Linked DNA regions of Homo sapiens. The protein of the gene in region 3 interacts with the protein of the main gene of each other region in a biochemical or structural test. Each region holds a gene or a part of one and is shown on either strand. Other genes may lie near its edges.

Region 1 (4,319 bases), about 24 Mb from region 3:
GATCACACGAGAGCCGCTGCCCACAGCAAACTTGTTCTCGTTGGGGGCCCAGCGCACGCAGCGGGCAGCCCGGTTGATCCGCAGGATGACCAGCGTGGGCTTCCATGTGCGGCCCTTCAGCGTCCACACGTAGGCGTTGCGGTCTGTGCCGCAGGTCACAATACGGTTACTCTCGGGGGCCCAGTCGATGCCTGTGGGGGGATGGAGGGAACACAGGAGGCTGATGACACTCAGGCAGAGGTGGCTGTATGGTGGCCACATGGGAGAGGCTGAAAGGCCACCATCCAGGTGGAAGCTGTATCTGCCCAGCAGGCACTTTTTTTTTTTTTTGAAACAGAGTCTCGCTCTGTCACCCAGGCTGGAGTGCAGTGGCATGATCTCAGCTCACTGCAGCCTCTGCCTCCCAGGTTCAAGCAATCCTCGTGCCTCAGCCTCCTGAGTAGCCGGGACTACAGGTGTGTACCACCAATCTTTTTTTTTTTTTTTTTTTTTTGAGACAGAGTCTCGCTCAGCCGCCCAAGCTGGAGTGCACTGGCACGATCTCAGCTCACTGGAACCACCATCTTCCGGGTTCAAGCAATTCTCACATATCAGCCTCCCAAGTAGCTGGGATTACAGGCACCCGCCATCATGCCTGGCTAATTTTTGTATTTTAGTAGAGATGAGGTTTCACCATGTTGACCAGGCTGGTCTTGAACTCCTGACCTCAGGTGATCCGCCCGCCTCCGCCTCCCAAAGTGCTGGGAGTACAGGCGCAAGCCACCGCACCCGGCCTCTTTCTTTCTTTGTTTTTATTGCGACACAGTCTCGCTCTGCCATCCAGGCTGGAGTGCAGTGGTGCAATCTCAGCTCACTTCAACCTCCGCCTCCTGGGTTCAAGCGATTCTTCTGCCTCAGCCTCCAGAGTATCTGGGACTACAGGTGCGTGCCACCACACCCGGCTAATTTCTGTATTTTTCAACATTTAGTCATGTTGGCCAGGATGGTCTCGAACTCCTGACCTCAAGCGATCCACTCGCCTTGGCCTCCTGAAGTGCTGGGATTACAGGCATGAGCCACTGCACCCGGCCCAGCAAGCACTTTTTACTGAGATCCAGTGCTTATTTAGAGTGACACCAGGGGGCACTCCTAGAGCTTATGAGGGAGTGTCAGAGCCCTCCATGCTATCAGCAAACATGCTGGAGGGCAAAGCCAAGAGGCAGAAAAGATGGGTTCTTGGTCATGTGGAGCTGCTGGATCAAGCCTCTCCTGAAGCCCTCAACCCTGTGAGTTTTTGGTAACATGAGCCAACACAGTCCCCTTAAAATTGAAGCCAGTTTGAATCCGGGTTTCACGGTGAGTGGGCAGATGCTCCACAATGAGTGGCCATGCCCTGCCTTGCACCACCCCCCCAACCCACCACCTCCTTTCAGGACGGTGGTCCCAGCCACCCTGACATACCTGTCACCTGCCCGTTGTGCTCCTTGAGCTCGTGCACCTTGGTCCATTTGGCACCGCTCTTTTCATAGATATGCACCTCATGGTTGTTGGGGCAGATGGCAATCTCTGAAGGGGAGATGGAGGGAGATTGAGGGGCCCTCTCCATGACTGCCCTCTGCCAGGACACACTACACAGTGCACCTAGGCAACAACACCTCACCTTTCATGACTCAGTCTCTCCTCTTCTGCCTTGCAGGGGCCCCCTGAAGTCCTTCAGGCCCTGCTAGGCCACCCTGTCTTCTCCTGGAACTGGCTGTCCTTTACTCGCAGCAATGAACCCTGGGACCTCTCCCCACCCTATTGCTCTGGCCAACCAGGAACCCTTCGCTGCTCCTGCTGACACCTCAGGGCCCCTGCACCTGCCAGCCCCTCCCCAGCTGGGGCACAGTTCCCTTCCTCTCCCCCTCTGGGTCTCTGGGTAAATGTCAAAATGTCATCTCCTCCGAAAGGCTTTTTCTTGGTCACTTTTTCTTTCTTTCTTTCTCTCTTTTTTTTTTTTTGAGACAGAGTCTCGCTTTGTTGCCCAGGCTGGAGTGCAGTGGTGCAATCTCGACTCACTGCAACCTCCGCCTCCTGGGTTCAAGCAATTCTCGTGCCTCAGCCCCCCGAGTAGCTGGGATTACAGACACCCACCACCACGCCCAGGTAATTTTTGTATTTTTAGTAGAGACAGGGTTTCACCATGTTGCCCAAGCTGGTCTGGAACTCCTGACCTCAAGTGATCCACCCACCTCAGCCTCCCAAAGTGCCGGGATTACAGGCATGAGCTACCGCAACTGGCCCATTCCCTCCTTAAACTTTAACCCAGGAGGCCCCTGGTCAGCTGGAAGACCCAGGGGTGAGGCCAGGGGACAGCCACATGGAGCCCATGGTCCGGGGGCCTGGCTGCTCCAGAGTCCCCATGTGTGCTCTGGCTGGTCCCCATCCCAGGAGGTGGAAGCAGCCACCCACCGGCCCCCAGCAAGCACTCACGGGTGCGGTCCTTGTTCCAGGCGTGGCAGCTGATGGGCTCCACCAGGAAGCTGTGGTAGGCCATGGCGGCTTGGCTCCTGTGCCCGAGAGAGGAAGAGAGAATCCACGTCAGCCCCAACCTTGCCCCTGACTTCACCCATACCAGGCCCCAGATGATCCTCACAGGCCTCACACCAGGGAGGCCCCTCAGTTTAGAGGGGCAGCAGTTTGCAGAGAGGAGCAGCAGGGGCCAGCCCTGGCTCCCAACTGGCCTGACATGTTGCTTCCCCTCCTGGGGCCTCAGTTTCCCTCCTTATAAAAGGGCAGCTTTCACAGGATGTCTCTGAGGCTCCAGGGACAGGGTGGAGGAGACGGTACTACAGGGGAGATGCTCCCTGGGGCGGGGTGGGGTGCTAGGACTCCAAGCTGGACAGGCCCCTCACTTGTCATCTGTGCCTCGGTTTCCTCATAGGATGGACGACCCCCCCCCCCCCACCCAACTTCCCCTGCCCCATTAAGGATGGGATGAAGATGAAGTCATCCAGGCCAGGCCCGGTGGCTCATGCCTGTAATCCCAACACTTTGGGAGATCGAGGCAGGCGGATCACTTGCGGCCAGGAGTTCAAGACCAGCCTGGCCAACATGGTGAAACTCCGTCTTTACTAAAACTACAAAAAATTAGTCGGGTGTGGTGGCGGGCACCTGTAGTCCCAGCCTGAGGCAGGAGAATGGCGTGAACTTGGGAGGCGGGGCTTGCAGTAAGCCGAGATCGCACCACTGCACTCCAGCCTGGGCGACAGAGTGAGACTCCGTCTCAAAAAAAAAAAAAAAAAAAAAAAAAAAAATTAGCCAGGTGTGGTGGCACCTGCCTGTAATCCCCACTACTCAGGAGGCTGGGTGACAGAGCAAGACTCATCTCAGAAAAAAAAAAAAAAAAAAGAAATGAAGTAATCTCATAAACCACCTAGAAAGGTGTCCAGCACATGGCAGTTGGCCCTGCCGTGCCCAGAGCCCTGGTCTTCCCCCACACTGCTCAGACGGGGAGAAGGGAGGTGGCCGGTCTGCAGGGGCTCATGGCTGAGGCAAAGGCAGATATTTAACAGATACATCCCATTCTCCATCCAGACATCCACTGGCTGCACCCAGGGCTGGGAGGAGGCACAGGGCTAGGCGAGGCCTGGGTGATGGCTCTTGGGGAGGCCCCAGGGTGACCCAGCCTTGGGGAACTGAAGGAGGGAGATTTTTGTTTCTTGAGACAGGGTCTCTCTCTGTGGCCCAGGATGGAGTGCAGTGGTGTGATCATGGCTCACTGCAGCCATGAACTCCTGGGATTACAAGCATGTGCCACTGTGCCCAACTAATTTTTGATTTGTTTGTAGAGAGGGGGGTCTCACAATGCTGTCCAGGCTGGTCTCAAGCTCCTAGGCTCAAGAGATCTTCCCTCCTCACCTGCCAAGTATTTGGGATTACAGGTGTGAGCCACTACACTCGGCCAGAACGAGGGAGATGTTTGACTGCAGCCCTCTAGACTAGCCCCAGCACTGAAGGGGAACCCTGGCAGAGGGCAGCGACTCATCCTCCCGTCAGCCCAGCTCAGCCCCTGCCAGCCTGTCCCTAGCCTCCTCCACCTGCCGCTGAGTGTCAAAGGAGCCCACCAGGCCTGACGGGGGTGAGATCACGGTCTCAGCCCAATTCCTCAAACACATCTCTCCCCGCCTCCGTGACTCAGTTTCCCAGCATCACAGGGACCTGGAAGTGGAGGAGCCCAGTGGCACTGCTTGCCCAGCCACATGCCCCGGGACACATCACCTGCCTTCTTTTAACCTCAGTTTTCTCATCTGTAAAATGGGAACAGGAATCCTGCCTCCCAGCAGAGATGCTGAGAGCTG
Region 2 (4,319 bases), on a different chromosome or scaffold from region 3:
GATGAATTTTGTAGAATCCAGCACTATGATTAGAGTTGAAGACTCTGGCAGAAGTTTCCACATGTCATACAGACTTACATCCTTGAGAACACAGGAGCAGCTGAAAGTCTTAGAGAATGTCTTTGGGGGAAGTCCAGTAGTAGAATTTCCTTATCTGCAAAATGGGGTTTAAAAAAATAAGATGATCCCCTGGTGCAGATATTGTATGGCAAATGTTTAGCATTGAACCTGGCACACACTAGGTGCTCAATAAAGGGAGTGATGTACTTTGAAGCTTGTCTAGATTTGGATTTCAGAACTGTGATTAGAGTTTAGGTTGGATTCTGAAACATGCCTTATTGAGGGGGAGTGCCTTGATGTGACCTCTGGTTTCTAAACTGTTAGAGGAACGTCTGAAGATAGAGAACTGCTGGCAGTTCAAGGTCCCTGAGACCACCCCCTTTCACCAAAATGGCCCAGGTCAGTACAGCCAGTTCTCAGCTCTCCTGGGCCCCCATTGGTTGCCTGCCCTGTAGTCGTTATTCCTTCTACCTTCATTGGAGGATGTGGAGGGCAAGGGGCAGAGCTTGCTCAATCAACTAAGACTGACTTTTAAGTCGTATTATTGATAAACAAGAGGTTGACCTTATTGGTTGAAAAGAGGAAGCTTTTAAAAAATCGCCTCTAATTTGAACTTCTCACTACCTTCCTTTCTCTTATCTCCTTTACTTGTGACCATGATAATTTTTGACCGCACTCCCTGTTCAACAGGATGTGTGTAGTCAGAGCTGTTCTGAGTATGTTTAAACCCTGCTAGTATTTACTGAGTTTTTTCCTACATATGGGGCCAGAGGCAGACACATGCAAATATTATTTTATTTAGTCCATAAAACAACCCCATGAGATAGGTGGTATTTCATCTTTGCGGTGAGGAAACAGGCTCAGAGAAGCTAGGTTGCTTGCCTGAGGTCACACAGCTACTGAGGGGTGTTGCTAGGATTGGGACAGGGGTCTGAATCTGCTCCAGTTTGAAGTAGTTATACACACAGGACACCATGGGAATGCTGAGATGCCACGGGGTTGATTGGATTGTTTGTGCATCCATAGTTGTGGTACCTGTAATCTTCACAGCCATTCTCTGAGTGGGTGTTGGATGGCACCTCTACAGAGGAGAGAACTTAGATCCAGAGTCACTTGAAGTTGACCCCACTTACAAAACCAGGGCTTTCCATATATGGCCGTAATTACTCTTTTTAGTGGAGGATCATAAGATATAGACCAAGCAGGATGAACATATTAGTAAGGCTCAAATACTACTGTTTTCACCCAATGCTGGACACCATTGGTGGGGCCTAGATGTGTGTTAGGCCCCATTGGTGTTTTTCCCAGTGTCTAGACTTTTGTTTTTGCATCAAAGCTAGTAATATTTCATCTCCCAGCATTTGAGGGTTTATTACTAATAAGCAACTTAGCAATGATGAGACCAAATGGCAAGTGCCTGCTGTGTACCTGGTACTATGTCCAGGTACTTTTGCACCTGGGGAGTGCAAAGGAATGAATTTAAAATGGGGATCTACCACAGCTGATGTCAGCAAAGGGAGAAATGTCTGTCTCGGGTCTCTGTTCATGTGTTACATAGGAGATCTCTACATTGCACTTGGTCATTAAGACCTCAGGCTTCTAGGAATCCATATCAGATTTGTCTTACAATAATAACAATGATAAATAAACATGTAAATAAAAAGTAAATAAAAAACATTAAGGGTTTATATATATATATATGTATCCGTATACACATATACATATATATATATATATATATATGTGTATATATATATATATATATATATATATATATATATGTATATACATATATATATATACACAAATCCTTAAGCCTAGTGGGCAGCAGAGAAAGGTCCATGGGCTTTGGAACAAAACAGGCCTGGGCTCAGATCTCCACCTTAGCTAGTCATGTGATTCTAGCTAAATTATTTACCTTTGTGATCTAGTAAAAACGTGAATAATTAGAATCTGCATTACAAGGTCATAGGCTGGCTTAAACTCTTTAACATATTTAAAAGCAGCTGATACTTTGTGCATAGTGGGTGAGTGACAAATAGTACAGGAAATTATTATATTCCACTATGGGGAGTTTTGTGGGGAGAAAGGTTCACAGAGTGGAAGAGAACAGTATATTGTGCCTGGAGTTGATAGAAATTCCACTAGAATGCCAGATCCTAGAACCTTTTCAACCAAGGTGTGCAACAGCTTTGCGCATTGTAATTCCCATAGTCCCTATTGTGGGATCCATGGTTCCAAGCCCAGTGCTCCCTGCCGTAAATGCCCTGTTGTATCAGATGGTTTTCTGTCTTAAGCAGAGCCCGTATCCCCATTGATAGAAGAGAAATAGCTTAGAGTTCCATGCAGAATTTGACAGACAAGTAGGGTATGTAGGCTTCAGTTGGTTCTACTTTCAGAGAGTTAAGATGGAATGAGGCAGCTCATGGCACTACAGGTCAGTTGCCTTCTCTCCAAAATGTTCACTCATGCATGTGGGCACTCATTGTATTTGAATAACAGCAACAGTGCCTCCCTCAGTTTGGAACCTCTAGTCCACTTGCTCACTCATGGTCCCTGCCTTAACCCCAGTCAAGTTCAAAGCCATAGGCATCATTTGTCCGACTGACATATTAGGGCATCTACCAGTCAAAGGGTGATTGTTGTAGATGACCTTTGGCCTTCTAGAGCAGGCTGCTTTCCACTTGACCTCTGCTGCTATTAGCAGACAAAGAGAGAGAATGGGAGAGAGAGTGTATTGGACTTCAGTCCCCATCATGTGCACTGCCTGGGGACATCCCAGCACACTCAGAGCACCACTGCCAAAGGGAACACTTCCCCTCTGTTGGCCAAGCCCATGGGTGGTCCAGGAGCAGCTGTCACATTTTGACTGCCAAGCATTTTGGAGTGGAAGTTGACCGAGGCATCTTCCTTCTCACTAGGGGCCTTGCGTGTGTTTTGGGGGTGAGGGGTTGGCTTCCTGCCTGGGCCTCTGTGGAGCTTCTCCTTTCTTGCCCAGCCTTCAGGACTTCAGTGTAGGCTCTGCAGCAACCCCATTGTCTGCTCAAGGAGGGACTGGAGAGATGGGATTTTCCCTCCTGCTACTGCACTGTTTGGAGCGATGGGAAGTGGAAAGAGCTCTCCCTCTCTGTCCAGACAGGCCAGTGGGGAGCTGCCTGGCAAGCTGCTCTCTAGCTGTGGGCTCTAGGCTGATCTCTTAATCCTTGGCAGGAAGGCAGAACTTGATACCCTGGAGAGGGAAGGACTGAAGCCCAGTTTATTCAGGTCCCAGAATATCCACACTCAGGAGGATGTGTGTTGGGGGTGAATTTGGGATCCCTAGAGTTCCAGATTTAGCCACTGTCTCAGTGTGTGGAAGTCAATTTGTGTGCTTTGGGATGTATTGTTTCTATGTCTGTTAACTTAAACACACAAGTTCAGGGAAGCGTCCATGACAGCTATAAATATCTTTTACTCTGGTGTCCCTTGGTGTTGCTTTTTCAATGACAAGTGAGATTTGTTTTACACTTGATATAACCCAGCAGCTGTGGCTGCCCTGCATGCCCTCTGGGTGCCCACAAGGCACTTCCCCTACAGAAGGGAATCTCCACCGGAGGCAGGCTTGGCATGCCCCACCTTCTGCATTTTAGCAGAAGGGCCTGGCATGATGAGAAAAGGGAAGGAGAAAGGGCCATGGGATCACCACTCACCAGGCTCCTCCCACCTCCAGGCAAGTCATCCTCACAACACCCTTCAAGGTAGACTTCTCCCAGATGAGGAAATTGGGAACAAGTGGGCTTATGGGAACCAGACAGAGATGTGATTAGGAAAAAGGTTTTCTACTTTGGAGAAGGCCTGCAGGGAACATTAGTAGGGTTTAGGAAATGCCACTCACAACATCAGACTCTGGGTCCTTGTAGCCCCGTGTTCCATCCTTGCTCAGCCCGGTGAGCAGAGCCTGGGAGGAGCCCCAGGGTTCCTTCCAGGCATCAGCTGCAACAGGTGAGATGCTGGCACTGAGCATCCTGGTTTCCCTTAGTAACCTACTGTAGATTTGTCATGTGTGCATTTTGCTAACCTTTTTAGAAGCTATTTATATCTCTAGCCCACACCGCATCACACGGGAATGCTGGTTTCCTCCTCTGCGTTGGGAAGGTGGATAGCCTTTGTTGACTCCAAAGCCTTTGCTGTGTTCGCTCCAAAGTCTGAATGCCCTGTGTTCCCCTCCTTGGGACTCTGATGTGGGTTTGGGTTATGCCAGCTTAGACTGTGGGCTGGCA
Region 3 (5,385 bases):
CCAAAACCAAGTACTTGTCAAAAGATAAATGACAAACCACAAAAAATACTACAGTATAGAATTATTATCTTTAACATATAAAGTGCTCCTCCAAGTCACTAAGACAAAAACAAATAATCCAATAGAAAATTGGTCTAAGGACAAGAAGAGGCAATTCACAGAAGAAATATAAATGGTCAACTGATATGAAAAGATATTCAATTTCACCAAAAACTATGAATTGAACAATAAGATGTTTTCACCAGTGTGAGACTGTCTACAGGGAAAACTATTACACCCATTAATAGAGGTTAATTACACATAAATATAACTTGATATAAGGCAGTAATATATTAATAAAAAGGATGCAACAGATATAAACATGGAAATATATATTTATATATATTAATAAAAGTGAAAAAGTTAAGTTGCAGAACAATATGTATACCATGTTTCTAGCAAATTAAAGAGAATAGCACTTTAGCACTTGGCCAAAGCCATCCTCTTCCAATGCTGCTGGCCAAGTAAAACATTAGCTAGACTGTTCCCTCTGTAATCTTGAGCTTGACACCTTCACAGATCTAATCCCACTCCCACAGCCGCAATAATCAACACTAGAGTCCAAAGTTCTAGTTCCTACTATCTAGCCATTTATAGTATGAGGTTTTGTTGTCATCCAGAATTCACAAGCCAATTAAATATTGCCAATTTTTTCTTCACGTTTCTGGTATCTAGCCTTGGAATGACAACTAGATTTCATCTATCGTGAACCTGGACAATTGGTAGTGGTTGCCTCTAGGAATACAACAGGTAGTTAGAAACCATGTCTGAACTCAGTAGGAAAAAATGCTGTGATTGTTGGTGTCTGCCATGGACACATACATCAAGGACTTAGTCCTTTTTTTTGCTATACATCAGGGGTGTCCAATCTTTTGGTTTCCCTGGGCCACATTGGAAGAAGAAGAATTGTCTTGAGTCACACACAAAATACGGTAACACCAATGATAGGTGATGAGCAAAACAAAAACAAAAAACTGCAAAAAAAAAACCCAAAATCTCAAACTGTTTTAAGAAAGTTTATGAATTTGGATTGGGCCACCTTCAAAGCCATCCTGGGCCGCAGGTTGGACAAGCTTGCTCTAGAAGCTGCCACAATTCCAGGTTTCTTAGTCAGATCTGATGTGCTGAACTAATAAATAAGAAATTTAGTAAACAATAAAGTATTACTCAATCCTTATTTCTATTATGAATAATAATTTCCAATTTTCTTTCTCCAGATCCTTCCTATCTTGAAATTTCTTGAAGAAATCTTAGTGTTTCCTTACTTTCTAGGGAATAAAGTTCAATCCTTAAGACTTGAAGTTCAAAGGTCTTCCAAAATCTAGCCTCAATTTACTCTTCAAACTTACCATCCACTATCTGCCCAAGCAAATGTCATTCTCAATTCTAGCCAACCAGTCTCCTCAATGCCTCCTAAAATTCTATACACATTTTCTATCCCAAACTTTTGTTTACACATTTCCTGATATAAACACTCCCCAACTAATGATGGTTCCACTTACAATTTTTCAGCTTTACAATGGTGCGAAAGCAATATGCATTCAGTAGAAACCATACTTTGAGTACCCATGCAACCATTTAGTTTTGTACTTTCAGTACAGTATTCAACAAATTATGTAAAATATTCAACACTTTATTATAAAATGGGCTTTGTGTTACATCAGGTTGCCCAACTGTAGGTTATTGTAAATGTTCTGAGCACATTTAAGGAAGGCTAGGCTAAGCTATAATGTTTGGTGGGTTAGGTGTGTTAAATGCATTTTTGACTACAACATTTTCAACTTACGACAGGTTTATCAGGACATAATCCATCATAAGTAGAAGAGCATCTGTACCTGATAAGCTGCTTGTTTCTGACATCAATTCTCTAGGCTATTTAAGGTTTTTCATATTCAAGTCCCACAATGATATACCTATCTCTCCTCTCTATTATTCAAATCTTTTATACATTTATATATGTGTGTGTGTGTGTGTGTGTGTGTGTGTGTGTGTGTGTATATATATATATATATGCTGGTTTGCAGCATATATCTTTTTGTGCATAATTTTTGTCTTCTTCAGCTATACAGTGAATAACTGAGGGGTAAAACCTGGATTTTCCTTACTGCTCCCTCATATTCCAAGATACTGGGAGGGTGTTATGTGCTTAGTAAGTCCTCAAGACTTGACTACGTTTCACTAATAAAAATCATTTCAGTTTCTAGCTAGTTTATGCATCAGTTTATGTATTAGTAAAGGAGTTGATTGATAAGACATATATATCTCATACATATGTCAGATATATCTCATATATTATCTTTTATATATATATCTTTCATTTGATCACATTTTCTTGAGGGGCTTTTCTGTATTTACCTCTTCAACATTACAGTCAATTATTTGGTCTCTTTAAAAAAAGGGTTACAATTCCTCTACAGTGCATTAACTCCTATGAGAAAATAATGTTTTCTAATTAGTTTTACTCTCCTATATGCTATTATATCAGTATAACTCTCGAATACTTCTGAGACTACTAACATAGATGCAATAAATAAGATTTATTTTGTATTACACTATATTTATGAATATGGTTAAGCATGCCAAATGTCTCCTAATTACTAAATACTTAATACAGCAGGTCCTCAAATAACATCCTTTTGTTCAACATCATTTTGTTCAATGTCCTTTCATCATAACTTTTTTTTTTGTTTTTAAGAGACCAGGTCTTCCTATGTTGCCCAGGCTGGAGTGCAATGCCCTCATCATGGCTTACTGCATCCTTGAATTCCTGGGCTCAAGTGAACCTCCTGCCTCAGCCTCTGGAGTAACTGGGACTACAGACATGGGCCACCACTACCAGCTACTTTTTCTTGTAGAGATTAGGTCTATGTTGCCCACGCTGGTGGCAAACTACTGGCCTCAAGTGATCTTCCTGCCTCAGCCTCCCAAAGCGCTGCGATTAAAGGTGTGAACCACCACGTCCAGCCCATTATTAACTTTGATGAGAAAAGAAAATCATTTTCAAGCTGGGGTCACTGTCTGTGTGGAGTTTGCAGGTACTCCCCATGTCTATTGGGTTCTCTGGGTACTTGGATTTCCTCCCACATCCCAAAAATGTGCATGTTAGGTTCACTGGTCTGTCTACATTATCCCAGGATGAGCAAGTGTGCGAGTGAGTTGTGGGTGTAGGTATGAGTGCACCCTGCGATGGGATGATGTCCTGTCCAGGGTTGGTTCTTGCCTTGTACCCTGAGCTGCCAGGATAGGCTCCAGCCACCTGAGACTGAAGTGAAGTAACTGGGTAAATAATTATCTTGTTTTTATTACTCTTTCTTAAATGTGTTACAGCTCACATTTATTTCATTAATTAATATTAGAAGTGTTTTTGTCTTTATTTAGAAGTTTGGTGATATATGCTACAGAAACTTAGCTCTTGTTTATATCAATTACCCTATGGTAAAACTGGTTTCATTATGTGTTGTTTCACCTAAAGTCACAGTTTCCAAGAATCCATCAACGATGCTAGGTGACCTATAAGAATTATATTTATAGTTAACAATGTATATCCTATTACTGTGACTATGAATGTATAAACTTTTGTTTCTAGAACCTTTAGAGTAAGAGTGAACTCTATTAGGAAAGCTATGACTTCTAGACAGAATAAATTATAACAAAGTTCAACCCTTATCTGCTCTTTTAAAATCTGTTTTTCTACTCAAAACTAGAATGGGCTACCATTATACTTCCATTAATATTATTTATTTAAAAAATCTATAGAATATGGACAAAAGTGAAATACATGAGATTACTACAAGCATGCATTTCCTTAGGAAAGTTTTGCTCTTACCAGTTTTTATAAAGACTTTTTAAAAATCTTACTATAGAAGACTAGAATACTGATACACATGGTAGGAATTGCTCAGCAGCAAAACAAATAGAACCCGGCTCCTCTGTACTTTGGCCAACGCTTAAGTAGCTCCAATTCTATATGTTATGAGGAATCCTGAATGTCCTAATCAAACCTGCTCTCTAATCAAGACTTTATTTCCAGACTTTATAATCTGATATTACTCATAGATACAATTTTTACATTAAAAGATAACTTTTTAAAAAAATAGTATATTTTAAATAAAATCCCTACAACTGTCCACAACAGAGAGATGGCCAAAGAGTGACTGGCAGAACTTGGTGAAAGAGACACTGTTCAAAAGGCCCAGTCACATCTTTTCCTCAAGAGCTGTGCTTTCTAATATCCAGAGCACAGCAAGAACAGAAGTTGAATAAGCAAGAAAGACAGTAAAAGATAAAACCCAGCCCTTTGCATCTTAAAAGCATGCCTAATTTTGGCATTCATTTGGGTTTCAGAAAAGTTCTGTCAAAGGTTCTAGTGTCTCTTGGTATGCTGTTTCAGGAATACAAAATTCACTAATATAATAAGCCATAATTTCAGCATGTTGTCCAGTGCATTACAAAAAAATTTAAGAAAACCAAGATTATTTTAATCACACAAATGAATCCCCACAGTAACCTCAATCTTGAATCAGTCTCTAAAGTAACCAAGTCAATTCACTATAACTATTAAGTCTACCACTGAAACTAAAAACCGATTTTTTTAATATTGGAAAATAAGCAGTAACATGTAACACCTATCATATCACTAATACAATTTCATCCAGAATTAGGATTCTAGATGGAATTGGTTAACAAAAGAGAAATTCTTAAAAATAATTCCATCTTAACCAAAAAAGCAGTTTCTAATAACCCAAAAATACATTATAATTACAAATAATAATTCTAAGTTAGCTAAGAGTTGGTAATTCTACTACTAATGCTTTTTTATTCTGTTCACTCTGCTGTTTTAAAAGTGAAATGCCTATTAAATTACAATGCTTAGAAAAAGGTGAATTAAAAATGGGAATTTTCAATGAAATAATTCAGGATTATCTACCTTCTGCTTAGATATATGCTATATTAGTCTCGGCTGTGCAAAACACATATATGCTAGAGTTAACATTAGGCCTGTTCTTTCCCTGCTAGAGTCCCTGGAATCTAGAATAGTTAAACTGATTAAGCATTAAAGCTGGAAAGACTGTGGAGTTATCTTGTCTGACCCTTCATTTTCAAATTAGAAAAGTGAAGTTCAGGAAGGGAGAAATGGCCAGGCACAGTGGCTCACACCTGTAATCCCAGCACTTTGGGAGGTTGAAGCGGACAGATCACCTGAGGTCAGGAGTTCGAGACCAGCCTGGCCAGCATGGTGAAACCCTGTCTGTACTAAAAATACAAAAATTAGCCAGGGGTAGTGGCACACGCCTGTAGTTCCAGCTACTTGGGAGGCTGAGGGAGGAGAATAACTTGAACCTGGGA

What was found. Proteins that work in one complex are often made in the same cells at the same time.
Region 1: the proteins of WASL (region 3) and ARPC1B form a complex in vitro, tested with the Homo sapiens proteins (one study listed by IntAct).
Region 2: the proteins of WASL (region 3) and RHOQ form a complex in vitro, tested with the Homo sapiens proteins (one study listed by BioGRID).

The regions. Positions count from the first base shown.
Region 1 is NC_000007.14:99,383,911-99,388,229, reverse strand, and holds part of ARPC1B (actin-related protein 2/3 complex subunit 1B), read right to left. Parts: intron 2,529-4,319; 5' UTR 2,516-2,528; coding exon 2,452-2,515; intron 1,546-2,451; coding exon 1,441-1,545; intron 192-1,440; coding exon 1-191. UniProt on the Homo sapiens protein: Component of the Arp2/3 complex, a multiprotein complex that mediates actin polymerization upon stimulation by nucleation-promoting factor (NPF).
Region 2 is NC_000002.12:46,544,671-46,548,989, forward strand, and holds part of RHOQ (rho-related GTP-binding protein RhoQ), read left to right. Parts: intron 1-4,319. UniProt on the Homo sapiens protein: Plasma membrane-associated small GTPase which cycles between an active GTP-bound and an inactive GDP-bound state. In active state binds to a variety of effector proteins to regulate cellular responses. Involved in epithelial cell polarization processes.
Region 3 is NC_000007.14:123,737,881-123,743,265, forward strand, and holds part of WASL (actin nucleation-promoting factor WASL), read right to left. Parts: intron 1-5,385. UniProt on the Homo sapiens protein: Regulates actin polymerization by stimulating the actin-nucleating activity of the Arp2/3 complex. Involved in various processes, such as mitosis and cytokinesis, via its role in the regulation of actin polymerization.